7 separate regions of the Homo sapiens genome follow, and regions 2, 3, 4, 5, 6 and 7 are each linked to region 1. Evidence: fine-mapped QTL for protein levels in blood plasma. A gene starts in region 1. Each other region holds a variant in brackets. All regions are shown on one strand. Distances are from middle to middle.

Region 1 (4,073 bases):
ATCAGCTTTGGGCGACAAACATCCAAATGACAGCAAACCCAATATCTTATTGTTACATGTTCAGACCATTTTCAGTTTTTCTTTTGAGACAGAGTCTTGCTCTGTCACCCAGACTGGAGTGCAGTGGCACCATCTTGGCTCACTGCAGCCTCCACCTCCTGGGTTCAAGTGATTGTCATGCCACAGCCTCCTGAGTAGCTTTTATTACAGGTATGTGCCACCATGCTGGGCTAATTTTTGTATTTTTAGTAGAGACAGGGTTTCACCATTTTGGCCAGGCTGGTCTTGAACTCCTGCCCTCAAGTGATTTGCCTTCCTCAGCCTCCCAAAATGTTGGGATTACAGGCATAAGCCACCATGCCCGGCCCATTTTCAGTGTTTCTTTTTTCTTTTCTTTCTTTTCTTTTCTTTTTTTTTTTGAGACGGAGTTTTGCTCTTGTTGCCCAGGCTGGAGAGCAATTCTGCGATCTCGGCTCACTGCAACCTCCAACGCCCAGGTTCAAGCAATTCTCTTGCCTCAGTCTCCTGAGTAGCTCGGATTACAGGCATGTGCCACCATCCACACTTGGCTAATTTTGTATTTTTAGTAGAGATGGGGTTTCACAATGTTGGTCAGGTTGGTCTCGAACTCGTGACCTTAGGTGATCCACCCGCCTCGGTCTCCCAAATTACTGGGATTACAGGTGTGAACCACCACGCCTGGCCTCATTTTCAGTTTTTCTTAATAAAAAATCCCACTTCTGAGATGAACATTTTTCATTAATCCTTTTAACACATTTTTATTGAATAGCTACTCTGTGCCAGGCATGTAATAGCCTCATCTCTATGCAAATCCATATGCCTAAATTTTTGCATGACTACGCCTTTCGACAAGTGTGTATTGTGGGAAGGAGGGCATAAACAGGAAGGTGGCATCACTTTAAAATCCACACAGATTTATACAATGTGGTTCTAAGACTTTCTGTAAGTCTTCTCGGGAGGCAACATTATCATCTAATCTTTTGCAGTCCCTCTTATGTTTGCCTACCTCTAGAATGAACCTGAATTTATTAATCCACCTTTATGAAGTGAAAGATTGAGAAGAATTTTCTGTGTTCTTAATTGCCTTTGCTCATCAAATTGCCCCCAAATTGCCCCCACTTGTAGAGTCTCCATGGCCTACTGTCTGCTAAAGTAAAGCAGAATCCCAGTCCTCGTTCCAGACCTGCCAAGTCAGAGTCTGTTTTCATGTGATTCTCACACACATTGGCATGTGAGAAGCACTGAGTTAGACCTTGGTGCTTGGCCCACCCTTGACCATGGTCCTCCTCTCTGAACAACGGAGGTGAGGAGACCAGTAGTAACAGCTGTGTCAGGAACAGGTCAGCACCCAGGGATCCACACAGACACTTTTGACCATTCCTAAGTCCTGCCTGCACAGGAAGTTGGCCACTAAAGATAGGCTGCCTGAAGGAAAGGACATAAGGACCTTTGCAAGCTGTTCAGCAGGGAGAAAAAGGGTGGAACAGGAAAGGGAGGAAAGCAAGTTTCTGGATTCCCCAAACCACAGTTTGTCTAGGTGCTACTTTCTCACTTTTCCTTATTTAGCACATAGCTTTGTCATGAGACATCTTTTTGCTGACCTCTTTTCCGTTTGCATTTTGCCCCATATTAGAATGCTACCATCTAAAACCGCTCCATGAATTAGAAAGTTTAAGTTGTCAGGGACTGAATGTGTCTGTTTTCCAACAGTTTCTGGCAGTTCCCTGCTTTTATGGTGTAGTCATGGTGAAACCTGAGTCATCTGAAGATGGTGGCAGTGCCAGAGAGCAGGAGAGAGGAGCTGCAAAGAAGCCAGACAGCGTTGGGCATCAATAACTCCTGGGCACCACCGGCCACTGGCCTTCATTCTGACAGGAGAGCCAACCCAACCCTAACTGTGTTCAGAGATTGCTCCAAGCTTTACAGTTCTACCAAATTCTTTCTGTAGCAAAAATATAAAGGCATCTTCTTAGGTAATTTTTTTTCAGGGTTCCAAGTAGCAACACCTAACGTCTGCAGTGCGAGTTCTCTTCTTCTTTTTTTTTTTAAGGTGATAAATCATAACATTTTCCTGGAAAGGAAAGCAGTAGACCTCATTTTTTGTTTTAAGGAAAAATAGTTTTTCTGTTTCCATTCATATACATTAAATAACTACCCAGGAAATACGCCCCGGTTTTGCGCGCGTGTGCGTGCGTGTGTGTGTGCGTGTGTGTGTGTGCCGTTTCTCTAAAATTCTGACTCATAGTCTGGAGGACAATGATTGACTTTTTTCCACTTCACATAGTTGCTATGAATTTCTCCTCACAAGGATGGGCCTGTTTACTCACCCTGGGCATCGTTGGTAGAGCGCTAGTGTAAACAGCCTGAGGAACCCGGTGGGCCGGGGAAGTGGGCGCGCTCTGTTCTCCGCGGCCAGCTGGGACGCCGGGCCAGGTGGGGCCGCCTGCGTTTAGCAACTGCTTTCTCACCCCCTGGATTTGCGATGTTTGCCACAGCAGCGAGAAGCGCCATTGTAATGGGGATGGGAGGGGTGGAGCCTCCAAGTCCTGTCTCAATTTAGATCTCTCACTCTGCTGTTAGGCGCGCCCATTTCAGATTACTAAACTCGAATTAAGAGGGAAAAAAAATCAGGGAGGAGGTGGCAAGCCACACCCCACGGTGCCCGCGAACTTCCCCGGCAGCGGACTGTAGCCCAGGCAGACGCCGTCGAGATGCAGGGCCCACCGCTCCTGACCGCCGCCCACCTCCTCTGCGTGTGCACCGCCGCGCTGGCCGTGGCTCCCGGGTAGGAACGTGGGCGCGCGGGGGGCGCGCGGGCGCGCGGGCCTGGGCCGCTCTGCGGCTCTGGGCCAGGGCTTCGGGGAGGTGGCGGCTGCTGTGCAGCAGCGGGTGGGAAATGCCCTCGCGGCTGCAGTCCCCAGCCTGGTACTGGCCTGGAGGTTTGACCATATGTAGCTTCAGCGTGGCTCTCCATGGGACAGTTAACTTTCTCCACTCATGAAGTTGTTTAAGCGTCTCCCCGGCCATAACAACTTTCTGAAGAGAGTCATTTTATTTTTAGTCCACATTGCCTCTGCCTTTTGCTTCTCAACTTTTTGCTCCCAGATTGCGATTCTTCTCTCAAAGACATGATATATTTTTTCTAACCAAGATGTCTCAACCTTAGCATTGCCAAAGTGTGGCGGAGGGGACTGATGTATGGGTTCAGGGGCAGACATTATAGGAAGAAAACAACAGCACCCAATAATGGCAAGCCCCATTCATTCCTAAAGATTTCTGTAGTTGAGCCCTAACCCCTAGTTATAGCAGAGAAAGTGCTGCTTTAGTGACTTCTTTTATGATTCGCTATACCTGGAATTTTCACCAGTTGTAGTTTATTTTCAAATGGTATATTTCAATCAATGGTATTGGTTAAATAATTTTTTACCCTCGTTGGGCAGCTACTCAAGGATAAAGGTTTGAATAAGAAACAGGCAAAATCTTAGTTAAAAAATAACAACAACAACAAGAAAATAATCACGCTGGGATAAGGTCCTCTGTAAAGGAGAAGCTTAGAGACTTTTGCTTTGCCAATAACTCCATTATGCCCCGGTGCAAGCCATTTACATCATGGTTCCTTCTGTGCGGTTCGTGGTTTATAAAATGGAAATAATAACACAGGCCTTCCTCTAGTAGTGATGCATGAATTACTGCATTAAAATTGATTTATGGGAATTATTGTTGTTTCAGTAGCATTTCAATTCAGTTGCCAAATAGAGCAGTGGGCAATGTTAACGGAAACAACTGCAATTGGCGCAGTATGGAGTGCCTATCGCACTAGGAAATCTGAGGGTCACAAAAGAAAGGAGATGTGAGGATAAGAAACTTTGTTTTTCCCTTGTTGGGAACTCTTTAGGCCTCGGTTTCTGGTGACAGCCCCAGGGATCATCAGGCCCGGAGGAAATGTGACTATTGGGGTGGAGCTTCTGGAACACTGCCCTTCACAGGTGACTGTGAAGGCGGAGCTGCTCAAGACAGCATCAAACCTCACTGTCTCTGTCCTGGAAGCAGAA
Region 2 (4,082 bases), 750 kb after region 1:
TAAATATAATAGAAAACATTTATTAAAAATTATTGATCCATTTTATAGGATTATAACTAACAATTACTAGAGAATTTTAAGCATAATTACAAATAGCAAAATGCATTTAAAAAACTACATAGTGGAGTTCTGATATAAATGTATAACTTTTCCTCTGTTGAAATTGATAAAACCTGTTTTAATATAATGGTGACTTTTGTTTTGCTTTTCAAATAACAGCAACTTCTTTTTTCAGTTTGGATTATTCTCTGTTATGTGTCTCACACTATATTTCCTCTTCCCTGGGCTGTGCTGAAGTATCTTGTTTTTTTTTTTTTTCATTTTTTTCCCCAGCTTTATTGAGGTATGATTGGCCAATAGAAGTTGTGTGTGTGTATATATATATATATATATATATATATATATATATATATACATATACATATCAATCAAAACTTGATGTTTTGATACATGTAAACATTGTGAAATAATCACCACAGGCAAGCCGCGGTGGCTCACGCCTGTAATCCCAACACTATGGGAGGCCGAGGTGGACGGATCACGAGATGAGGAGTTTGAGACCAGCCTGGCCAACATAGTGAAACCCCATCTCTACTAAAAATACAAAAAATTGGCTGGGCATGGACACGGGTGCCTGTAATCCAAATACTTGGGAGGCTGAGGCAGGAGAATCGCTTGAACCCAGGAGGCAGAAGTTGCAGTGAGCCAAGATGATGCCCACTGTGCTCCAGCCTGGGTGACAGTGTGACTCCGTCTCAAAAAATTAAATAAAAAATAAATAACAGTAATAACAATCACCACAATCAAGCTAATTAACATATCCATTATACCACATAGTATCCATTTTCTTTTCTACTTTTGGGCTTCTTTTTTATTTATTTATTTATTTTTTTTGTGGTGAGAACACTTAAGATCCACCCTCTTAACAAATTTCAAGTATACAACATTGTTAACTATAGTCACAATGTTGTACATCAGCTCCCCAGAACTTATTCATACTGGATATCTGAAAGTCTGTAGCATTTGGCCAGCATCTCTCCGTCTCCCCCTCCCTCCAGCCCCTGGCAAAATCCAGCAGAACTCTGATTCTATGAGTTTGATTATTTTAGATTTCATATATAACTGAGATCATTTAGTACAGGTATTTGTCTTTCTGTCTGACTTATTTCACTTAGCATAATGTCTGCAAAGTTCACCCCCATGTTAACTAAATGGCAGGATTTTCTTCTTCATTAAGGTTTAATAATAAAAAACACATTCCCTCTATAAAAAGCAAGCAGGGATGGTGTTCATGGTGGAGGTAGGAGGTGAAGTGAAAGACTGAATTGACTATCTGCTGTTTTTCCTAGAGTTGACCCCAGATATAAAGATTCAGAGTTTTTCATCAAAGTAATATTTTATATTTTGATTGTAAAACTTTATGCAAAATCAAATCAGTTACATTGATTCCCATTTTTTACAAATTAAGGGCATTTCTGGTTTTCTGTATTCCATTTATGATTTATTAAAGACATTAAGAACAAATCTTGGATTTTACTTGTGGACTATATCATTTGCACAATGACATCAATTCTTTATTTTTTTCTTTCATCCTTCACCTCCTCCCAACCTTCCTCTCAAGATCTCAAAATCCATTACATCATTCTTATGCCTTTGCATCCTCATAGCTTAGCTCCCGCTTATAAGTGGGTACATACGATGTTTGGTTGTCCGTTTGTGAGTTACTTAAGTTAGAACAATTGTCTCCAACTCCATCCAGGTTGCTGTGAATGCCATTATTTTGTTTCTTATTATGGTTGAGTAGTATTCCATAGCATATATATACGACATTTTCTGTATCCACTCATTGGTT[A/G]ATGGGCATTTAGGCTGGTTCCATATGTTTGCAATTGCGAATTGTGCTGCTATAAATGTGTGCCAGTGTCTTTTTCATATAATGACATTTTTTTTTCCTCTGGGTAGATACCCAGTAACGGGGTTGGTAGATCAAACAGTAATTCTACTTTTAGTTCTTTAAGGAATCTCCATACCATATTCCATAGTGGTTGTGCTAGTTTACATTCTCACCAGCAGTGTAAAAGTATTCCCTTTTCATCACATCCCTGCCAACATCTGTTATTTTTTGATTTTTTAATTATTGCTATTCTTGCAGGAGTAAGGCAATATCTCATTGTGATTTTAATTTGCATTTCCCTGATAATTAGTGATGTTGGGCATTTTTTGATGTTTTTTGGCCATTTGTATATCTTTTTTTGAGAATTGTCTATGTCCTTTGCCCACTTTTGATGGGATTATGATTTTTCCTTGCCTATTTGTTTGAGTTCCTTGTAGATTCTGAGTATTAGTCCTTTGTTGGATGCATAGTTTGTAAATACTTTCTCCCACTCTGTGGATTGTCTGTTTAATCTGCTGATTATTTATTCACTGTGCAGAAGCTTTTTAGTTTAATTAGGTACCATCTATTTATCATTGTTTTTGTTGCATAAACTCTTTGCCTAAACCAATGTCTAGAAGGGTTCTTCTGGCTTTATCTTACAGAATTTTTATGGTTTCAGGTCTTAGATTTAAGTCTTTGATCCATTTTGAGTTGATTTTATATAAGGTGAGAAATGAGAATCCAGCTTAATTCTTCTACATGTGGCTTGTCAATTATGCTAGTACTATTTGTTGAATAGGGTGTCCTTTCTCCACTTTATGTTTTTGTCTGCTCTGTCGAATATCAGTTGGCTGTAAATATTTGGCTTTATTTCTGGGTTCTCTATTCTGTTTCGTTGTTCTACATGCCTATTTTTATATTGGTACCATGCTGTTTTTGTAACTATAGCCTTATAGTATAGGTTGAAGTCAGGTCATGTGATGCCTCCAGATTTGTTCTTTTTGATTAGTCTTGTTTGACTGTACAGGCTCTTTTTTGGTTCCATATGAATTTTAGGATTGTTTTTTCTAGTTCTGTGAAGAATTATGATGGTTACGTTGATGGGGATTGCATTGAATTTACCAATTGCTTTTGGCAGTATGGTCATTTTCACAATATTGATTCTACACATCCATAAGCATAGAATGTGTTTCAATGTGTTTGTGTCATCAATGAGTTCTTTCAGATGTATTTTGTAGTTTTCCTTGTAAATATCTTTTATCTCCTTGGTTGGGTATATTCCTGTTTTTTTTTTGTTGTTGTTTTTTTTTTTTTGCAGCTGTTATAAAAGGGGTTGAGTTCTTGATTTGATTCTCAGCTTGGTTGCTGTTGGTGTACAGCAATGCTAGTGATTTGTATGTATTGATTTTGTATCCTGAAACTTTACTGAATGCATTTATCAAATCTAGAAGCTTTTTGGATGAGTGTTTAAGCTTTCTAGTTATACTATCATATCACTAAAGAACAGTGACACCAATTCTTTAGTCTAATATTTAAATGTTAGTTAAGTCCCTAGTAATGGAATCCTTGGCTGATGTAAGAAATTGCTTAGTTTTATACAAATTACTTTTATTTTTCATAGCAATGTTACTTAATACAAATGGATAATGAATTTAATTTTCTGGAAAAACTCACTGTCCATTATGCAGATATGTATGTGTTATAATCTTATTTTCATACTCACTCATTAAAGATTTAAAATTTTAGAACACTTGCTTTATTATTTTTCTGGCCATATATTTTTTATTCTTATGTCATCACTTAAATATAAGCAGCTATGTGTTTTTATTAATAATCACTGTTTTAAAAGAATTATTTGGTTTTTATTCAGTCATGTGTCATAATTTTTTATATGCTGGGCAACAATTAGGTATAAGATGTCCCAATGAAATGAGAATAGATTACATAGGCAGATATTTTTAAGGTAAATTCCAACATCAGGTATGCCAAAATGTGAAAAATACATATTTTTAAAATGTAGGAAATAGGGTATGTTTTTGTTTGAAGACTTTTAATCACTGGGTTGCACTGAGTTGGCAAAACCTTTGGAGACTGATTCTTATTTTTAGGTATGTTGAGTCTGCAATTCTAGAGGCAATCACCAAGTATCTTTAAACTTAGCCAAATAGTTTAACTTAGGTACTTTTTTGTGAATAAAAAAGATCATTAC
Region 3 (4,082 bases), 520 kb after region 1:
TTTGGGGGAGGAAAACAGACTTACTTAATGAATCATTTTACAGCCTAAAAGGATAATTAGAAAATATAATATTCCATCCTTACACACACACACACACACACACACGGATTTTTCAAATAATTTTAAGAATTCTGAAATTTATAATTTCTTTTTTTTTGTGTGTGTGAGATAAGGTTTCATTCTGTCACCCAAGCTAGAGTGCAGTGGCATGATCATAGCTCACTGTTACCTTGAACTCCTGGGCTCAAGTAATGCCCCTATCTCAGCCTCCTGAATAACTAGGACTATAGGCGTGTGCCACACACTGGCTAACTTTTAAATGTTTTGCAGAGACAGGGTCTCACTATATTGCTCAGGCTGGCCTCACACTTCTGGCATCATACTCCTGGCCTCAATTGATCCTCCTGCCTTGGGCTCTCACAGCACTGGGATTACAGGCATAAGCAACCATGCCGGGATCATTTTCTTTTATTTAAATTTGAAAGGATTTATAATAAAAGAAACTTCACTATTATTCATCTTATACTACCTTTGGTATAATGTTTTCTTATATCACAAGAGAATAATTCTTTTAGAAATACTTTCTATACATATATTTTTCTATGCAAGTTTTAGTAGATTGGTCTAGGTGAAAAAAACTTATTTCAAAGAAGTTCTGGGAAAGAATACATTTTTCGCCAAGTGGATTTATATAAAGAAAATTAAAATTGCATAGTATAAAAAGAACTATTATACTAAATGTTGACTAAAAGTTTTATATGGTTATGCTTTGTATCATGATTGAGATTGCAAGCTTCTTGAGGATTGAAATCAACATTTTCTCTTGTAAACTCTTTCTGTTATGATAGAATATCTCATAATAACTAATTATTGGACCATGTATTCTTTTTTGCAATATATGTGGCTAACAATTTTGCTGTTGTTTATTTTTATCTATATTTGCATTTTTGAAAACTTTATTAATAATTGCAATTTACTATTATAATTATGTTGACCTTAAATCAGTCATTTAGAAAGTAAAGTAAATCTCAGTTTTCTTCTCTTAGAAGATTTTCAGGTAAGTTAAATATAATACTTCATAAGAATGGCTGTCAAAATATTAGACAAATCATCTATATGGTAAAAGGCAATATACATGGAAATTAAATCATTCTTAAGACTCACAAAAATGAAGAGAATAAAAAGAAAATCAGCGTTGGCAAAGGAACTGTGAGTCAGTAGTTCCAAATTTCATCAAAGACTTAAAAAACAAAACAAGAAAAAAACAAAGAAAGAAACCAGATGCACATTTGAGTCCCATCTATGGAAAGTATTCTATATTTTTATGATTTCAACAAAGGTACTAGAATAATAAAATGATGATTATGCTTCAGTAGGACTCATAAGTGAATAAGCAAGTTCTTAACATTTTTTTAACACTGTCATTTTAACACTGTCAGTTGATGGTACTTTTGCCATCAATTAGGAATCAGGATTTCTCTGATCCTAATTGAATTCAATAAAATATCCTTGAAAAGTTGCAGTTTGCAAGGTTGAGAATAGATACCAACTCATAGCTGGATGTGCAAAGTAGGTGCCATAGTTATGGAGAATTACAAGGAAAGGAATTGCAAAAGTCCTCAAATTTGAATAAGCCACTACAACTGGTAAATTATGGCAGACTGAAGAGCACACTGGGGGGAGTGCTGCTGGCTTTCCCAATCTATCTGTCTGTCTGTCTCTCCCTCTCTATCATCTGTCTCAGCTTAATTGAGGTATAATTTACATACATTAAAACTTAGCTATTTTAAATCAACAGTT[C/T]GCTGAATTTTCTTAGTGGTACAGAGTTGTGCAACCAGCACCAAGATCCCTCTGAAAAGTTTTCTCCTATACTTCTGCAATCGATCCCCTCCCCTGACCTTTGGCTGTAGGCAGCCACTGATCTGCTTCCTGCCACTTCAGGTTTTCCTCTTCTAGAGTTTCATATACATGGAATTAAATAGTACGCAGTCTATTGAGTCAGACTTGTTTGATTTAGCATGATGGTTTTGTGAATCATCTATGTTGTTTTGAACATTAGTATTTTTTTATTGGTAAGTAGTAGTATTATATGGATATATCTCACATTGCTTATACATTTACTTAGGCATTTGGATGGTTGCCAGTTTTGGACTATTATGATTAATGTTGCACTGAACATTTGTGTACATCTTTGTGTGTTTTCATTTGTCTTGGATGATTCCTGGGTCTATGATAAGTGTACGTAAAATTTTGTAAAGTACTGCCCTACTATTTCCTAGAGTGGCAGTATCATTTTCCCTTCTTACTAACAATGAGCAAGGGTTCCAGTGGCTTCACAGTCTCAACAGTGCTTGATGTGATCAATCTTTAAAAATTTTAGCCACTTCAGTGAATATGTAGTGATATGTCATTGTGATTTTTAATTTACATTTTCCCGATAGCTAGTAATATTGAGCATCTTTTCATATGCTGCTTTTACATTTGTATATATTCTTTCATGAACTGTCTGCTTAAGCCTTGTGACCATTTTGTAATTGAATTGTCTTCTAATTACATGGTAAGAATTCTTTATATATTCTCTCTGTATAAGCCCCTTGTCAGATGTATGTTTTGAAATAATTTTTTCCAGTTCATGGCTTATCTTTTTTATTTTCTTAAGTATGTATTTCAAAGATAAAAATATTTTAATTTGATGTTAAAATAATAGTTTATAATATTCGATATGATTGTAATTATTTTTAAAATATTTTAGTTATTCATTACAAATATGTAGAAATAGTTTTTTTGTATGTTGGTCTTTATCCTGCAAACTTATTAATTGATTTATTATGTCTAGTAATTATGTATATTTTGTCAGGTTTTCCACACAGATAAACACAGTTTTATTTCTTTTTCAATCTGTATTACTTTAGTTTTTTTTTTTTTAATTTTATTGCTCCAGTGCGATGTTTAATAGAAAAGGTCAGAGCAAGCTTAAGGGGATATCATCTAAGCTTTACCATGAAGTATGATGTCAGTTTTAGATTTTCTCAGATCTCCTTTATTGTGTTGAGGAGGTTTCTTTCTATTCCTAGTTTGCTGAGAATTTTCTTTTCCTTTCTTTTCTTCACAAATAAATGTTGGATTTTTTTTCAAATGCTTTTTCTGCATCTGTTGAGGTGATCATATGGTTCTTCTTTTTATACAATTAATTCTTAAATGCTGAACAAGTATTGCATTTCCACAATAAATCTCAATTGGTCATGCTGTATTATGTATATATACTGCTAGATTGGATTAGCTAAAATTTGTGTTAAGAATTTTTGCATTTGAGGCCAGCCTGGACAACATGGTGAAACCCCGTCACTACTAAAAATACTAAAAATTAGCCAGGTGTAGTAGTGGGCGCCTGTGATCCCAGCAACTCAGGAGGCTGAGACAGGAGAATCACTTGAACCCAGGAGGTGGAAGTTGCAGTGAGCCGACATCGCGCCATTGCACTCCAGCCTGGGCAACAGAGCGAGACTCCGTCTCAAAAAAAAAAGATTGCATTTGGATTCATGAGAAATATTTGCCTATAGTTTTCTTTTCTTATAATGGTTTTCTCTAGTTTTGTTATCAGTATAAACACTGGCTTTATAGAATGAATTGGAAAATATTTTCTTCTCTTTAATTTTCTCAGAGACTGTGTTGAATTAGTATTATTTCTTCCTTAAAGACTGAGAGAGTTCCCCTCTATAGCAATCTAGGTCTGGAGATGTCTTTGAAACAAAAAAAAGTGTTAACTACAAATTTAATTTCTTCAATAGTTATAGAGTTTTGAGGTTATGTATTTCTTCTTTAGTGAATTTTATTATGTGTCTTCCAGGAAGTTTGTACATGTTATTTGATTGTCAAATTTATTGTCATAAAATTTTTCATATATATATATATATATTTTTTTTTGAGATGGAGTCTCTGTTGCCCAGGCTGGAGTGCAGTGACGTGATCTTGGCTCACTGCAACCTCGCCTTCCAGGTTCAAGCAATTCTCTTGTCTCAGTCTTCCAAGTAGCTGGGACTATAGGAGTGCACCACCACACCCAGCTAATTTTTTTTTCTTTT
Region 4 (4,000 bases), 880 kb after region 1:
CACACATGCAGAAGAAGTTGCATTACCAAATATGGTAGTAAATCTAAGTGAGTCAACTGTTAATCTCCTTTGGCAATACCTTCACAGACATACCCAGGATCAATACTTTGCAACCTTCAATCCAATCAAGTTGACACTCAGTATTAAACATCACATTAGGATAAGCCAATCAGCACACTTCATCCTCCAGATGCAGAGAATGGTTCAAAATAGTCAAATAAACTTAGCCGCTATAAATGATGAACATTTATAACAACTTTTTCTGCTAAGACAATGACACTGTCCTACTTGATGGGACTATAGGAATTTGTAGAACTGAGAGATTATGGAAGCCATCTGGTGGTCTTGAGGCGTAACTGCCTGTGATGAAGCCTATATCAAAACAAACGAGGAGATAGACCAAAACCAGGTCCTTCGTGTCGATGCTGGGCCATTAGATAAAGCCTCTACCTGAGCCAGCTTTACCTGTAGACATTTTAGGATATTACATTCTATTAACTGAATAAGCAAGTTTTGAGTTGAGTTTTCTATTTCTTACACCCAAAAACATCCTATTGCTTCAGTCTGCAGTTTCCTGTTTAATTGATAGAGGAAAGCAGTGTATTCAGAAGTCCCTAAAATAATGAAGGTCAGATTTTGAAATTCTTATTAGACTGTAACTTTTATTAATTTTTATTGTTAGCTTTTGTTCTAGGTTCAGGGGTACATGTGCAGGTTTTTTATATAGGTAAATGGCATGTTGTGGGGGTTTGGCATACAGATTGTTTCATCAACCATGTAATGAGTATACTACCTGATAGGTAGCTTTTCAATCCTCACCCTCCTCTCAACTTCCACCCTCAAGTAGGCCCAGTGTCTATCGTTCCCTCCTTTGTGTACATGTGTACTTATTGTTTAGCTCCCACTTATAAGTGAGAACATGCAATATTTGGTTTTCTGTTCCTGCATTAGCTTGCTTAGGATAATGCCTCCAGATCCAATGATGTTACTGCAAAGAACATGATCTCATTCTTTCTTATGGCTGTGCAGTATTCCATGGTATATATGTACCACATTTCCTTTATCCAGTCTTTGGTATTTAGGTTGATTCCATAGACTGAAACTTTTAAAAAATAAGTAGGATGGTGTTCTCTAGTGGTTTGCTTATCAAGGGACTGCCTCCATAAATAGGGTGACCATTAGTCTGATTGGTTTGCAAGAGAGTCCCTAGTTTATGCCTCTTGAACCAGCATATTTTTAAAGAGCTCCTCATTTCATAATTAAGTATCCTGGTTTGGACAATAAGTTCTATGGTCGCTGTACTAATAACATATCCAAGGCTCAAACAATTATTTAGCTTTGGTATCTCTATTATCAGATGAAACAGAGGTTAAAGCACATCAGTTTAGAAACATTTTTTATCTTGCTCATCACCATATTCCCATTGTTTAGAAGGGTGATGGGAACATAGTGGGATGACTATTTTTTGAATGAAGGAATGAATGGTGCCAGTGAGCATGACTTATGAGACCATAATCCAAAGCCATATAGCCCCTCTAATGCCAGTTTACTTGTCTCCAAAATAGTATTAAAAATAAATATACCCCATCTACCTTATGAATTTGTTAAGAGGATCAAATAAGTTAATTGTGTGAAAAGCTAGCAAAAATTTAAAATTATATATACATGTGGTATTTAATTATATACAAAAGAATGCAAATGTTACAAGTTCTTTCAATTTCTACCCAAGTAATAAATATACCTAAATTTGAGTCACCAACAGCACCATACTGCTTCCATACATTATCATAACCTTTTCCCCCAATTTTAAAGCACATTGAAACAGATTAAATAATTCATCAGAAAAATCAGATTATATATGGAAAAATTCCATCAAGAAATACGTTGAAAAATTCAACCATTACCATAACCTTTAAATTGAAATTCTATGTATCTACAAATATGGTAACTATTAGCAAAGCTTTATTTTTCTTAGGCATCAGAAACAAATTATTTTATTGTTTTGTCATTGATTCAAGTATTTAATAAGATCTTATATGGAGAACTTATAGATTATTTTAGAAAATACACTTCAGGCCAGCTGCGGTAGCTCATGTCTGTAATCCCAGCACTTTGGGAGCCCGAGACTGGTGGATCACCTTAGGTCAAGAGTTTGAGACCAGCCTGACCAACATGGTGAAACCCCATTTCTACTAAAAATACAAAAAATTATTCGGGTGTGGTGGCAGGCGCCTGTAATCCCAGCTACTCAGGAGGATCTCCTGAGCCTAGGAGGTCAAGGCTACACTGTGCCGTGATCATGCCACTACCAAAAAAAAAAAAAGACTAAGAAAAGAAAGAAAA[AAAAAG/A]AAAAGCAACTGAGTGAGGGCAAAAAGAAAGAGAAAGAAAAGCAAGTGAGGGCAAACAGTACCTGAGGATATGAAATATTTAAGGAAGGGCTAGGGACAAGATATCTCTGGTGTACCCACCGGTCCAGGCTTTTGCTATTGTACAATAGGGAAGCAAGGAAAATAAAAGAAGGTGTGAAGTAAACCTCTTGGTTTAGTGATTATCAGAGCTTGAATAGAAACAGAGTAAACTTGTCTGTAGAAAGATCAGTCAATGATGGAAATGTAAAGACACTTTTATCAGGTCCTTAAGCTCAGTATCAAACTGGAAACCAATAATTAAGTTCTAAATACTTATAATTTATTTTTTCATTTTTGTGAGTTTGGTCTAATGATCAAGCATCAGCATAATTTTGCTAAAAATAAATTTATGTTGCCTTAATATAAGAGCAACTTATTGACTGTGTCAATATAAAGGTGGAAAGTTTTAAAGCCCAGTAGAAATATTCTAAGTCCAAGAATAGCTTTGCTCATTCACTGGATAATTGTTTTTATATTAAGTGGGTGAGAGGCCAAACTGAGGCTGGACCCTGCATCTCAGGGCTGGAGCCTGGACTGTGGCTTAGGTTTCTAGAGGTATCATCAATACCCCTTTCCTGCAGCCAGAGAGACCACAGGTCCAACAACAGGAATACCACCTACAAAGGAATCTATGGGCTCACATAGTGAGGCTGTGTAACAAGAAGGGGAGAGCAATAAATTATCTACCCATTAGAAACAGGAAGGGAGACAGTGTGTGATAGCCAAAAAGCAGAACAGAAAGAACAGCTGAGAAGGCCTGAGAACCAGGTGAATGGCCTGGAGGAAGGATGGGGGCAAGCAATGTGGATAGCTGGACTCAGGGGGGTTGACCATTTAATATTGTAAACTGCTGAAACACAAGGGCTCAGGGAACTCTGATTATTTTTGTAGGCAAGCAAATATACTGCATGAACAAAGAATAGTTCTTGTATTATTTGAATTTAAAATGTAATTCTTAGGTAACAATATAGGAATTCTGTGGATCTTCATGAACTAGTTTCTGTATCAAGTTTGACTACATTTTATAGGATGAGAGTATATAATTTCATTGGCATACCTTCAGGGAAAGATCTGGAAAAAAAAACAAAAACAAAAAAAAAAAACAAAAAACCTTGCCCATTTTGTCCCAAAAAAGGCAAAAGCTCTGGGGAACCAGGATGAATCTGTTATTTCCTTTAATCCCCTAATAGTAAGGTTTTAATAGGTTCTTAGACATTGATCAGAACCATCTGAGGGTGGTAAGTGGGTCAAGGCTTAGCTCTCTGCCCCTGTTTGCTGTCTGTCCACACAATGGAGTATGTGAGTGAGTAAGCCTGTTGGAAGCTTATTTTTAGTTTCTCTAAAAGGAATTACACATGGGCATCAAATGAACAGTTAGGCCTTTAATGCCATAAAGGATCTGTTCCACACAGATGCAAGAATGTAAGCATTGTTTGTGATCTCTAAAGAGCAATTATATCAAGCAGGAAGGTTTTTTTTTTTCCCCTTCTGTGAAGTATATCATTTCTACACTACTTGATATTTTAGTTAGTTCTTCCTACTATGATTCAGAGGTTTTCTGGTGTTTTATTTAGAAATACCAGATGTTACAC
Region 5 (4,082 bases), 560 kb after region 1:
ATAATGACAATAATGAAGAAGATATTGTCCTTGCTTTCAAGGAGTTGTTAATTTAGTTTAGAAAATAGGCAAGGAAATCAGTGATTGCAGTATAAAGTGGTAACTGTCTTTAGAAGTTGGTGTGATCTGTTTGATATTAGATGTTTCTTGGCTGCTACTTCTGGAGTAATTTTTAACGGTGCTATGTAAGAATTCCATTGTTCACATAAGTATGCAATGGAAGGTCTACTTTTCAGCTCAGATTCATTTATTGTTTCTCACCCTCTTTCCACAACCCAGAAGGTACTTAGTGAGTCTCCTTAAGTGACAAATAGTATTTGACTCTTTCCATTAGAATTACTCATGATTTCTTTTCCCTTGTCTAATATTCACAAGATTTCTGCTAGAACAGAGAGAATACAGTCCTCAGAAATACAAACACAAATTATTTAGTTTAGTTAAATTATAAGGCTGCAGCATTGCATACACACAGGCAGTATTTTGTTGAGTAAAATGGCAGGAAGCCAAAACTTTTATAGAAACCCGCTGATAATTCAACACTTAAAAACTATGATTTAAAAATGTACAAGTGAAAGATGATTTCTTAGAAATGCAGTAATCTTTTAGCAACCATATCAATGCTGATAGCAGGGGACAAGAGGGTCACAAAGAGATTCCAGAAAAGAATAGGTTCTTTGTCTTGCTTACTCTGGGTTAGTTATTACCAGTTTTCTGGTAAGGAAGAATTAGAGGTAAATATCAGAACTTACTAAACATACCATAGGTCACTGTTTAGTGGCCACTATTTTCACAGGGGTATGTGAAAAATGTAACTCCTTCCCTTTTCTTGCATATCAATTTGAGCTCACTTAGCCAGCCCTCTTTCTGCTAGATAGTAGGAAACTTTATCTAGATAATTCCAGGTGAGCCTAGACATCATCCAATGTTTCACCAAGTGTTTTTTTTTAATTCCCATTTCTCTGTCCTTTTCTTCATGAAATCATCTAAGATTGGCTAGGGGCGGTGGCTCACGCCTGTAATCCCAGCACTTTGGGAGGCCGAGGTGGGCGGATCACGAGGTCAGGAGATCAAGACGATCCTGGCTAACACGGTGAAACCCTGTCTCTACTAAAAATACAAAAAATTAGCTGGGCATGGTGGCAGATGCCTGTAGTCCCAGCCACTCGGGAGTCTGAGGCAGGAGAATGGCATGAACCCGGGAGGTGGAGCTTGCAATGAGTGAAGATTGGGCCACTGTACTCCAGTCTGGGCGACAGAGCAAGACTCCATCTCAAAAAAAAAAAAAAAAAAAAAAAAAAGAAAGCATCTAAGATCTCCAGCTTTGGCAGAACTATCAATCCATGTTGGCACCTGTCCAGATGCCTGTGTTTGCCTGTCTGAGCTCTGCTCCTGGTGACATGGCCTCTCCAGATCTACAGATTGTTTCTTAGCTAGTATCAGGCTCCTTTGCTATTTTACTTGGCACTTTAAGATGGGACTGTGGAAGATTCTCTGGGCTACAGGCCAGCTGGCCAGGCTCCCCTGCAGCCATTCTGTCCCCACTTTACCAGGGAGGTAGGAGAAACTTTGGCAAGGTTGCCACCCTTACAGTCCGGACAGGCAGACTGTACACTTCTTCTACTCTGGGACTCCTCTAAATCTATCTTTCAGTAGAGATCTGCCTGGGGCACCTAAAAGGTGCCCTCCACCTTCTAGGACCTAAGTGTTTTTAGGTAGTTTTGGGGTAGAAGGTGGTGATAAAAAATTCCCATGTTATCACATTTTCCTTCAAATATTACTATGATACAGCTAGACTGTGCTTTCAAAATGAAAATCTGCGAATTTTATGTCTCGTTTGTCCCCTGATTCTGCACACCTTGGGGTTAATGGAAGACTTATATTTAGTTCTGTCAGGTAGTATGAAAAAACATGGTACTGTGAAGAGAAGCAGCTTTTCTTTACAACGTGCATGGTGATTCTTGAGAATTCTGCTGTTGTCTTCATAAATTTCTGGGGTTAGTAATGCCTCCAGGTGTCTTTGCAGGTAAATATGTCTACTAGGTTTCCTTTCAGATGCAGCTTTAATGCTTAGGGCTGGTAAAGCTGGTAAGAACTATTCTTGGAGAATTCCATCTAACAGTTTATCTGTGTCTAGAGTAGTAACAGTTGCTTATGTGAAGAGAACAAAGAATTACAGAAGAGGAATTATGTTAACATTTTACTTCAGAGACAGGTTTAATTTATTTTACTACATGAGCCCCTTTAGATACGGAGCTGATAGTAATTTCTTGCTGAAAGAACTAAAACGACCACTTCATTGGAAACTCATTAAGGAAAATGCCTGTGTATTATAACATCA[C/T]CTTAGTCCTTACTTGTAGAAGAGCACATAATAGTCCCTTAAATTTTATTGAATGAGTAGAATTTCAGGCTACAATGTACCAACTTGCCCTATAAATTTTGTCAGGTAATGTTGGTATATTTTTCAAACACATTTCTTAGGACTATCAAAAAAAAGCAGAGACAGAAATTAAAGTGGTAAAGGGAAATTTTATTCAGGACTATTGCAATAGGGGAAGAGAGACCCCCATATAGAACTGGGCTTCATTCTAAATACATCAGGGATAAGTAGGGATTTATAGCCAAAGAGCAGGGATCAGAAAATTTTTATGTATTTATTTATTTATTTATTTATTATTATTATACTTTAAGTTTTAGGGTACATGTGCACAATGTGCAGGTTAGTTACATATGTATACAAGTGCCATGCTGGTGCGCTGCACCCACTAACTCATCATCTAGCATTAGGTATATTTCCCAATGCTATCCCTCCCCCCTCCCCCCACCCCACAACAGTCCCCAGAGTGTGATATTCCCCTTCCTGTGTCCATGTGTTCTCATTGTTCAATTCCCACCTATGAGTGAGAATATGCGGTGTTTGGTTTTTTTGTCCTTGCGATAGTTTACTGAGAATGATGATTTCCAATTTCATCCATGTATCTAATTAAACTAAAGAGCTTCTGCACAGCAAAAGAAACTACCATCAGAGTGAACAGGCAACCTACAAAATGGGAGAAAATTTTCGCAACCTACTCATCTGACAAATGGCTAATATCCACAATCTACAATGAACTCAAACAAATTTACAAGAAAAAAACAAACAACCCCATCAAAAAGTGGGTGAAGGACATGAACAGACACTTCTCAAAAGAAGACATTTATGCAGCCAAAAAACACATGAAAAAAATGCTCAGAAAATTTTTAAGAAGAGATACCAAGTCTGGGGGAAATTCTGGCAGAACCAACCTAACAGGATTCCTGCTGAAAACAGGCGAGGGTGATCAGCTAACAGGAGTGGGCAGAGAAAAATTTTGATCAGATACTGAGGGTGATCAGATATCAAGGATGAATAATTCTTGCTAAACTGTGTTGGCCGTATTATTTGCTAAAACTGGGTTTTAGAATGATGTGCACAGACAGGCCCAGGAGAAAGTCCAGAAGCCTGACTAAAGTTTGGCCAAGCAAAGAACTGTTGTTAGAATACAGTCCCACAAGAAGCCAAATGACAAAATAAATATATATATATATAAACAACAGAAGAAGAGCTTCTGGCAAGTAAGTTTGAGAAATAGCTGTATATCACATGCACCTTTGAAAGTGTATTTTAAATAACATTATACCAAAATTTCTTCATTTGTTCTTTCTGTATCTACTCTATTAATATGCTGCTTTATTCTTTTTCTCATTTATTAAACATTAGGATTTAATATACTAACTTCTTTTCTATTATTAATAACTGATCATCATGACACTCATGATTAATTAAATGTTTCATTACATAAGAATGGCATTGGGGCAATATGGAAAAAAGAGGTAGGTTTTATTTATCTATAGATATTTATTTTATTTTATTTTTTTTTGAGTGAAATTCTGCTTTATTTTATAATTAGAAAGGGCCAAGCTTTCTCCTGGTTCAGCAAACCATCTCTGATGAGCAGGTTAGGGGCAGGTTACCAGACTACCCACCATTCCCTTTTGTCAGATGCTCAGACTGCTCAACCGTAAGGGTTGGTCCTGCCTCAGAACCCACTCTGGTCATAGAGATC
Region 6 (4,082 bases), 860 kb after region 1:
TTACCAGCTCTGATGGTTACAGGAAAAAGAGTCTGCTTGAGACAATTACAGTGAAGGTAAAGGGAACTTTGTCTTGCACTGTAGATACCAGCATGGCCACAGTGGGGTAGAACACCAAATGGGCTCCCGAGGTCCCCATTTGCAGGACTGGACTCTTGGACAGCATCTCTGAACCTGCCCTGGGCCAGAGGGGAGCCCACTGCCCTGAAGGGTGAGTCTCAGGACAAGCAGCATTCAGCACAAGCTTACTTAAGAGCCCTTGGGTGGGCCTTAAGGGAATATCTATGGTAGTCTGGCAATATTTCTCATGGCCGGTAGCAGGTGAGGCTCCTCTACCTTTGGAAAGGGGAGGGAATGGTGGGAAAGACTGCATCTTGTGGTAAGAGTTCCAGCTCAACCGCAGTTCAATAGAACATAAGGTAGACTGCTAAGGTTTTTGAGCCTTATTTCTGACTTCCGGATGGCACTTCTGGACTTACCCCGGGCCTAAGGGGAACTTGCTGCTCTGGAGGAAAGGATGCAGGTCTGACTGGCTTTGCCACATGCTGATTGCAGAGTGTCAGGGTGTTGAGTGAAAATGTGTAATAGCAAGGGATTAGTTACAGAAGGCCTTGGTGAGGCCCAGGACTATGCTGACCACAGGTCTGACCCAGTGCAGTCATAGTGGTGGTGACCAGAAGGGGGCTTATGTCATACCACCGTCAGGTTTAGGTGGCTCAAAACAGAGACCTATATCCGGAGGAAGTGTCTATTCCAGTGAAGACAAACCTCTGCCCTTTCTGATGGAAGAGGTCCAATATAATCAACCTGCCACCATGTGGCTGGCTGATCACCCCAAGGAATGGTGCCATATCGAGGGCTGAGTGTTCATCTCTGCTACTGGCAAATTGGGCCCTCGGCAGTGGATGTAGTCAGGTCACCCTTTGTGAGTGGTAGTCCATGTTGCTGAGCCCATGTGTAACCTCCATCCCTACCACCATGACCACTGTTCATGGGCCCATTGGGCAATGACAGAGGTGCCTGGGGAAAGAGGCTGAGTGGTGTCCACAGAAAGGGTCATCCTATCCACTCAATTATTAAAATCCTCCTCTGCTGAGGTCACCCACTGGTGAGCACTAACATAGGATACAAAGATCTTCACAGTTTTTGACCACTCAGAGAAACCCATCCGCATACCTGTTCCCCAAATCTCTGTCACCAATTTTCCAATCATGCTTCTTCCAAGTCCCTGACCATCCAGGCAAACCATTGGCCAGAGTTCATAAATCAGTATATTATCTCACATCTGATCATTTCTCCTTCCATGCAAAGTGCACAAACAGGTGCACTGCTAGAAGTTCTGCCCACTGGAAAGATTTCCCTTCACCGCTGTCCTTTGGGGATGTCTTAGAAAGGGGTTGTAGTGCTGCAGCTGTCCACTTTCTGGTGATGCCTGCATATTGTGCAGAACCATCTGTGAAGCAGGCCCTAGTCTTCTCTTCCTCTGCCAACTGATCATAGGGAACTCCCCATGAGGCCATCAGTGTAGGGTGGGGGAGAGAAGACAAGGTGGCAGGAGTGGAGACCATGGACGTTTGAGTCACTTCTTCATGTCACTTACTTGTGCCTTCAGGATCTGCTTGAGCCTGATCACATATATATCACTTCCATTTGATGATGGAATGCTGCTGTGCACGACCCACCTGATGGCTTGATGGGTCAGAAAGCACCCAGTCCATGATAGGCAGTTCAGGTCACATGGTGACTTGTTGACCCATAGTCAAACGTTCAGTTTCCACCAAAGCCCAGTAACAGGCCAAGAGATGTCTTTCAAAAGGAGAGTAGTTATCTTCAGAGGATGGCAGCACCTTGCTCCACAATCCTAGAGGCCTCTGCTGTGATTCACCTCTCAGGGTCTGTCAAAAACTCCAAACAGCATCTCTATCTGCCACTGACACCTCCTTGGATCTGCAGACTCATATGGCCCAAGTGGGACTGCAGCATGCACAGCAGCCTGGACCTGTTGCAGAGCCTTCTCCTGTTCTGGACCCCACTCAAAACTGACAGCCTTTCAGGTCACTCGATAAATGGGCTGGTGTAACATATCCATATGAGGAATATGTTGGGTCCAAAATCCAAATAGGCCCATTTGGCATTGAACCTCTTTCTTGATTGTAGGAGGGGCCAAATGCAGCAACTTATCCTTCACCTTAGAAGGAATATCTCGACAGGCCCCACACCACTGGACCCCTAGAAATTTTACTGAGGTAGAAGTTCCCTGAATTTTAGTTGGATTTATTTCCCATCCTCTGGCATGCAAATGTCTCATCAATAAGTCCAGTGTGTTTGCTACTTCTTGCTC[G/A]CTGGATCCAATCAGCATAATGTCATCAATGTAATGGACCAATGTGATATCTTGTGGAAGCAAAAAGTGATCAAGATTTCTCTGTATAAGATTATGACACAAACCCAAATGTTGATCTGCCCCTGAGGTAGGACAATATAGGTTATTGCTGGCCTTACCAGTTGAAGGCAAATTGCTTCTGATGGGCATTATGGACAGGAATGGGGAAAAAGGCATTTGCCAAGTCAGTGGATGCATACCAGGTGCCAGGAGATGCATTCATTTGCTCAAGCAATGAAACCACATCTGATAAAGCAGCTGCAATTGGAGTCACCACTTGGTTAAGCTTACAGTAATCCACTGTCATCTTTCAAGATCCATCTGTCTTCTACACAGGCCAATGGGAAAGTTGAATAGGGATTTGGTGGAAATCACCATCCCTGTGTCTTTTAAGGCCTTGATAGTGACACCAATCTCCACAACCCCTCCAGAGATGCAATATTAGTTTTGATTTACTATTTTTCCAGGAGGAGGCAGCTCTAATGGCTTTCATTTGGCCTTTCCCACCATAATAGCACTCATCTTACCAGTCAGGGAGCCAGCGTTGGGGTTCTGCCAGCTGCTAAGTATGTCTAGGCCAATTATGCATTCTGGCACTGGGGAAATGACCGCAGGATGAGTCTGGGGACCCACTAGACCGACTGTAAGTTGAACTTGAGCTAAAACTATATTATTTCCCTGACTTCCATAAGCTCCTACTTTAACTGGAGGACCACAATGACGTTTTGGGTCCCCTGGAATCATTGGCAGCTCAGAGCCAGTGTCCAGTACTCCCTGAAATATCTGATCATTTGCCTTTTCCCAATGCACAGTTACCCTGTTAAAAGGCCAGTGGTCTCCTTGGGGAAGGATGGGAGAAAGATTCATTGCATCAATTGTTGGTAATGTAGTGGGGTCCTTCTTCACAGAGACCTGGTCTTCCCTTCATTCAAGGGGTTCTGGGTCTGTAAACTGGCTCAAGTCTGGAAACTGACTGAGGGGCCTTGATTATCTGTTTTTATAATTCAAATTAGTCTTTTGTTCAATTGACCTAGAAGTTTTCTATTTATATAAATTAAGTAGGAATGCAGTAGGCTTCCTATCAATTTCACTTCCAGGAACACTGTGATTAATTAGAAAAGGCCAGAGCTCTACAGAAGTCAGACTATTATGATTGGTATTTTGCCTCTGCTATCCTTTATGGTAGCTATGCCCACCTTGCCTTTGATGGCTGAGTGCCGCCACGTGGCTCCTGACACCTCAAGATCCAATTCCCATTGTATTTAAATTTTGTAGTCGAGTGACTGTCGTTTCCACTCTTAGATCTGACATACAGAGAAGAGCAATTACAGGGCTCTTCACTCACAGATGCAGGTGCTGCCTTCACAAATCTATTTCTCAAGGCACTGGTCAAGAGGATATTTTCTGAACCCTCCCAGCTGGGATGAGTAGGTCTAAATAAGTAATGCACTCCACTATCCAAATGTCCCTAAGCCTTTGGATCTTTTCCTCTACATTAAACCAAGGAAGATCAGGCATTTCCAGCTGGCTCATAGTGGGCCATCTTTTAATCTATATTTCAGCTAACCAAGCAAATAAACTATTAGAACTATTTTAACTCCTCGAGCTGTGACATTAAAAGCAGAATCCCTACTTAGTGGACCAAATCAATAAATTCTGCCTGTTTCAACTCTGTATTCCTTCCACAATTATCCCACACCCT
Region 7 (4,066 bases), 650 kb after region 1:
TGGTACCAGTACCATGCTGTTTTGGTTACTGTAGCCTTGTAGTATAGTTTGAAGTCAGGTAGCATGTTGCCTCCAGCTTTGTTCTTTTGGCTTAGGATTGACTTGGCAATGTGGGCTCTTTTTTGGTTCCATATGAACTTGAAAGTAGTTTTTTCCAGTTCTGTGAAGAAAGTCACTGGTAGCTTGATGGGGATGGCATTGAATCTATAAATTACCTTGGGCAGTATGGCCATTTTCATGATATTGATTCTTCCTACCCATGAGCATGGAATGTTCTTCCATTTGTTTGTATCCTCTTTTATTTCATTGAGCAGTGTAGTTCTCAATGAAAATAAAACTCAGTGTAGTTTTATTTGTAGCTCTTCTTGAAGAGGTCTTTCACATCCCTTGTAAGTTGGATTCCTGGGTATTTTATTCTCTGAAGCAGTTGTGAATAGGAGTTCACTCATGATTTGGCTCTCTGTTTGTCTGTTATTGGTGTATAAGAATGTTTGTGATTTTTGCACATTGATTTTGTATCCTGAGACTTTGCTGAAGTTGCTTATCAGCTTAAGGAGATTTTGGGCTGAGATGATGGGGTTTTCTAGATATACAATCATGTCATCTGCAAACAGGGACAATTTGACTTCCTCTTTTCATAATTGAATGCCTTTTTTTTCCTTCTCCTGCCTGATTGCCCTGGCCAGAAGTTCCAACACTGTGTTGAATAGGAGTGGTGAGAGAGGGCATCCCTGTCTTGTGCCAGTTTTCAAAGGGAATGCTTCCAGTTTTTGCCCATTCAGTATGATATTGGCTGTGGGTTTGTCATAAACAACTCTTATTATTTTGAGATACATCCCATCAATACCTAATTTATTGAGAGTTTTTAGCATGAAGGGCTGTTGAATTTGTCCAAGGCCTTTTCTGCATCTATTGAGATAATCATGTGGTTTTTGTCTTTGGTTCTGTTTATATGCTGGATTACATTTATTGATTTGTGTATACTGAACCAGCCTTGCATCCCAGGGATGAAGCCCACTTGATCATGGTGGATAAGCTTTTTGATGTGATGCTGGATTCTGTTTGCCAGTATTTTATTGAGGATTTTTGCATTGACGTTCATCAGGGATATTGGTCTAAAGTTCTTTTTTTGTTGTGTCTCTGCCAGGTTTTGTTATCAGGATGATGCTGGCCTCATAAAATGAGTTAGGGAGGATTCCCTCTTTTTCTATTGATTGGAATAGTTTCAGAAGGAATGGTAACAGCTCCTCCTTGTACCTCTGGTAGAATTCAGCTGTGAATCCATCTGGTCCTGGACTTTTTTTGGTTGGTAAGCTATTAATTATTGCCTCAATTTCAGATCCTGTTATTGGTCTATTCAGAGATTCAACTTCTTCCTGGTTGAGTCTTGAAAGCATGTATATGTTGAGGAATTTATCCATTTCTTCTAGATTTTCTAGTTTATTTGCGTAGAGGTGTTTATAGTATACTCTGATGGTAGTTTGTATTTCCGTGGGATTGGTGGTGATATCCCCTTTATCATTTTTTATTGCGTCTATTTGATTCTTCTTTCTTTTCTTCTTTATGAGTCTTGCTAGGAGTCTATCAATTTTGTTGATCTTTTCAAAAAACCAGCTCCTGGATTCATTGATTTTTTGAAGGGATTTTTGTGTCTCTATCTCCTTCAGTTCTGCTCTGACCTTAGTTAATTCTTGCCTTCTGCTAGCTTTTGAAAGTGTTTGCTCTTGCTTCTCTAGTTCTTTTAATTGTGATGTTAAGGTGTCAATTTTATCTCTTTCCTGCTTTCTCTTGTGGGCATTTAGTGCTATAAATTTCCCTCTACACACTGCTTTAAATGTGCCCCAGAGATTCTGGTATGTTGTGTCTTTGTTCTCATTGGTTTCAAAGAACATCTTTATTTCTGCCTTCATTTCGTTATGTACCCAGTAGTCATTCAGGAGCAGTTTGTTCAGTTTCCATGTCGTTGAGTGGTTTTGAGTGAGTTTCTTAATCCTGAGTTCTAGTTTGATTGCACTGTGGTCTGAGAGACAGTTTGTTATAATTTCTGTTCTTTTACATTTACTGAGGAGTGCTTTACTTACAACTATGTGGTCAATTTTGGAATAAGTGTGGTGTGGTGCTGAGGAGAATGTAT[A/T]TTCTGTTGATTTGGTGTGGGGAGTTCTGTAGATGTCTATTAGGTCAGCTTGGTGCAGAGCTGAGTTCAATTCCTGGATATCCTTGTTAACTTTCTGTCTCGTTGATCTGTCTAATGTTGACAGTGGGGTGTTAAAGTCTCCCATTATTATTGTGTGGGAGTCTAAGTCTCTTTCTAGGTCTCTAAGGGCTTGTTTTATGAATCTGGGTGCTCCTGTATTGGGTGCATATACATTTAGGATAGTTAGCTCTTCTTGTTGAATTGATCCCTTTACCATTATGTAATGGCCTTCTTTGTCTCTTTTGATCTTTGTTGGTTTAAAGCCTGTTTTATCTGAGACTAGGATTGCAACCCCTCCCTTTTTTTGTTTTCTATTTGCTTGGTAGATCTTCCTCCATCTCTTTATTTTGATCCTATGTGTGTGTCTGTATGTGAAATGGGTTTCCTGAATACAGCATACTGATGGGTCTTGACTCTTTATCCATCTTGCCAGTTTGTGTCTTTTAATTGGAGCATTTAGCCCATTTACATTTAAAGTTTATATTGTTATGTGTGAATTTGATCCTGTCATTATGATGTCAGCTGGTTAGTTTGCTCGTTAGGTGATGCAGGTTCCTTCTAGCCTCGATGGTCTTTACAATTTGGCATGTTTTTGCAGTGGCTGGTACTGGTTGTTTCTTTCCATGTTTAGTGCTTCCTTCAGGAACTCTTGTAGGGCAGGCCTGGTGGTGACAAAATCTCTCAGCATTTGCTTGTCTGTAAAGTATTTTATTTCTCCTTCAGTTATGAAGTTTAGTTTGACTGGATATGAAATTCTGGGTTGAAAATTCTTTTCTTGAAGAATGTTGAATATTGGCCCCCACTCTCTTCTGGCTTGTAGAGTTTCTGCCAAGAGATCCACTGTTAGTCTGATGGGCTTCCCTTTGTGGGTAACCTGACCTTTCTCTCTGGCTGCCCTTAACATTTTTTCCTTCATTTCAACTTTGGTGAATCTGACAATTATGTGTCTTGGGGTTGCTCTTCTCGAGGAGTATCTTTGTGGCGTTCTCTTTATTTCCTGAATTTGGATATTGGCCTGCCTTGCTAGATTGGGGAAGTTTCTCCTGGGTAATATCCTGCAGAGTGTTTTCCAACTTGGTTCCATTCTCCCCGTCACTTTCAGGTACACCAATCAGACGTAGATTTGGTCTTTTCACATAGTCCCATATTTCTTGGAGGCTTTGTTCATTTCTTTTTATTCTTTTTTCTCTAAACTTCTCTTCTCGCTTCATTTCATTCATTTGATCTTCCATCACTGATACCCTCTCTTCCAGTTGATTGAATTGGCTACTGAAGCTTGTGCATTCGTTATGTAGTTCTCATGCCTTGGTTTTCAGCTCCATCAGGTCCTTTAAGGACTTCTCTGCATTGGTTCTTCTAGTTAGCCATTCATCTAATCTTTTTTTCAAGGTTTTTAACTTCTTTGCCATAGGTTCGAACTTCATCCTTTAGCTCAGAGAAATTTGATCATCTGAAGCCTTCTTCTCTCAACTTGTTAAAGTCATTCTCCATCCAGCTTTGTTCCATTGCTGGTGAATGCAGCTGCATTCCTTTGGAGGAAGAGAGGCTCTCTGATTTTTAGAATTTTCGGTTTTTCTGCTCTGCTTTTTCCCCATCTTTGTGGTTTTATCTACCTTTGGTCTTTGATGATGGTGACGTACAGATGGGGTTTTGGCATGGTTGTCCTTTCTGTTTGTTAGTTTTCCTTCTAACAGTCAGGACCCTCAGCTGCAGGTCTGTTGGAGTTTGCCAGAGGTCCACTCCAGACCCTCTTTGCCTGGGTATCAGCAGTGGAGCTGCAAAACAGTGAATATTGGTGAATAGCAAATGTTACTGCCTGATCGTTCCTCTGGAAGTTTTGTCTTAGAGGGGTACCCAGCTGTGTGAGGTGTC

Alleles and levels. Alleles are on the strand shown, and positions count from the first base shown. The strength of an association depends on the size of the effect and on how common the allele is.
As copies of G replace A in region 2, the plasma level of the protein whose gene starts at base 2,720 in region 1 goes up (moderate association).
In carriers of allele T in region 3, the plasma level of the protein whose gene starts at base 2,720 in region 1 tends to be lower than with C alone (strong association).
For the plasma level of the protein whose gene starts at base 2,720 in region 1, allele A in region 4 goes with a higher level than allele AAAAAG (moderate association).
For the plasma level of the protein whose gene starts at base 2,720 in region 1, allele T in region 5 goes with a lower level than allele C (moderate association).
With allele G in place of A in region 6, the plasma level of the protein whose gene starts at base 2,720 in region 1 is lower (moderate association).
As copies of T replace A in region 7, the plasma level of the protein whose gene starts at base 2,720 in region 1 goes up (moderate association).

The links. PIP is the chance, under the fine-mapping model, that this variant and not a neighbour inherited with it causes the effect. Protein levels are from antibody-based Olink assays in UK Biobank. Linkage for the fine-mapping came from a reference panel and not from the study's own genotypes, which makes the PIPs less certain.
Region 2: its variant is fine-mapped to the plasma level of the CD109 protein (UK Biobank, PIP 0.93).
Region 3: its variant is fine-mapped to the plasma level of the CD109 protein (UK Biobank, PIP above 0.99).
Region 4: its variant is fine-mapped to the plasma level of the CD109 protein (UK Biobank, PIP above 0.99).
Region 5: its variant is fine-mapped to the plasma level of the CD109 protein (UK Biobank, PIP above 0.99).
Region 6: its variant is fine-mapped to the plasma level of the CD109 protein (UK Biobank, PIP above 0.99).
Region 7: its variant is fine-mapped to the plasma level of the CD109 protein (UK Biobank, PIP above 0.99).

Annotation. Positions count from the first base shown.
Region 1 is chr6:73,693,484-73,697,556 of GRCh38, forward strand. It overlaps CD109 (CD109 molecule), which reads left to right and starts at 2,720. Exons shown (of 33, transcript NM_133493.5): 1 at 2,720-2,806; 2 at 3,917-4,073. The coding sequence starts at 2,733. It overlaps CD109-AS1 (CD109 antisense RNA 1), which reads right to left and starts at 2,648. Exons shown (of 2, transcript NR_110889.1): 1 at 2,349-2,648; 2 at 420-2,092. RefSeq lists enhancers at 2,350-2,609, 2,563-3,277 and a silencer at 2,840-2,889.
Region 2 is chr6:74,447,421-74,451,502 of GRCh38, forward strand. The region is part of intron 2 of LOC101928516 (a long non-coding RNA gene); the gene reads left to right. Among named protein-coding and RNA genes, the nearest start is that of SNORD156, 680 kb to the right of the region's middle. The variant A/G (reference allele first, on the strand shown) is at 1,853.
Region 3 is chr6:74,212,154-74,216,235 of GRCh38, forward strand. All of the region lies in intron 1 of LOC101928516 (a long non-coding RNA gene), which reads left to right. Among named protein-coding and RNA genes, the nearest start is that of CD109, 520 kb to the left of the region's middle. The variant C/T (reference allele first, on the strand shown) is at 1,801.
Region 4 is chr6:74,574,678-74,578,677 of GRCh38, forward strand. The region is part of intron 2 of LOC101928516 (a long non-coding RNA gene); the gene reads left to right. Among named protein-coding and RNA genes, the nearest start is that of SNORD156, 550 kb to the right of the region's middle. The variant AAAAAG/A (reference allele first, on the strand shown) is at 2,344.
Region 5 is chr6:74,250,138-74,254,219 of GRCh38, forward strand. All of the region lies in intron 1 of LOC101928516 (a long non-coding RNA gene), which reads left to right. Among named protein-coding and RNA genes, the nearest start is that of CD109, 560 kb to the left of the region's middle. The variant C/T (reference allele first, on the strand shown) is at 2,339.
Region 6 is chr6:74,554,805-74,558,886 of GRCh38, forward strand. All of the region lies in intron 2 of LOC101928516 (a long non-coding RNA gene), which reads left to right. Among named protein-coding and RNA genes, the nearest start is that of SNORD156, 570 kb to the right of the region's middle. The variant G/A (reference allele first, on the strand shown) is at 2,342.
Region 7 is chr6:74,339,120-74,343,185 of GRCh38, forward strand. The region is part of intron 1 of LOC101928516 (a long non-coding RNA gene); the gene reads left to right. Among named protein-coding and RNA genes, the nearest start is that of CD109, 640 kb to the left of the region's middle. The variant A/T (reference allele first, on the strand shown) is at 2,135.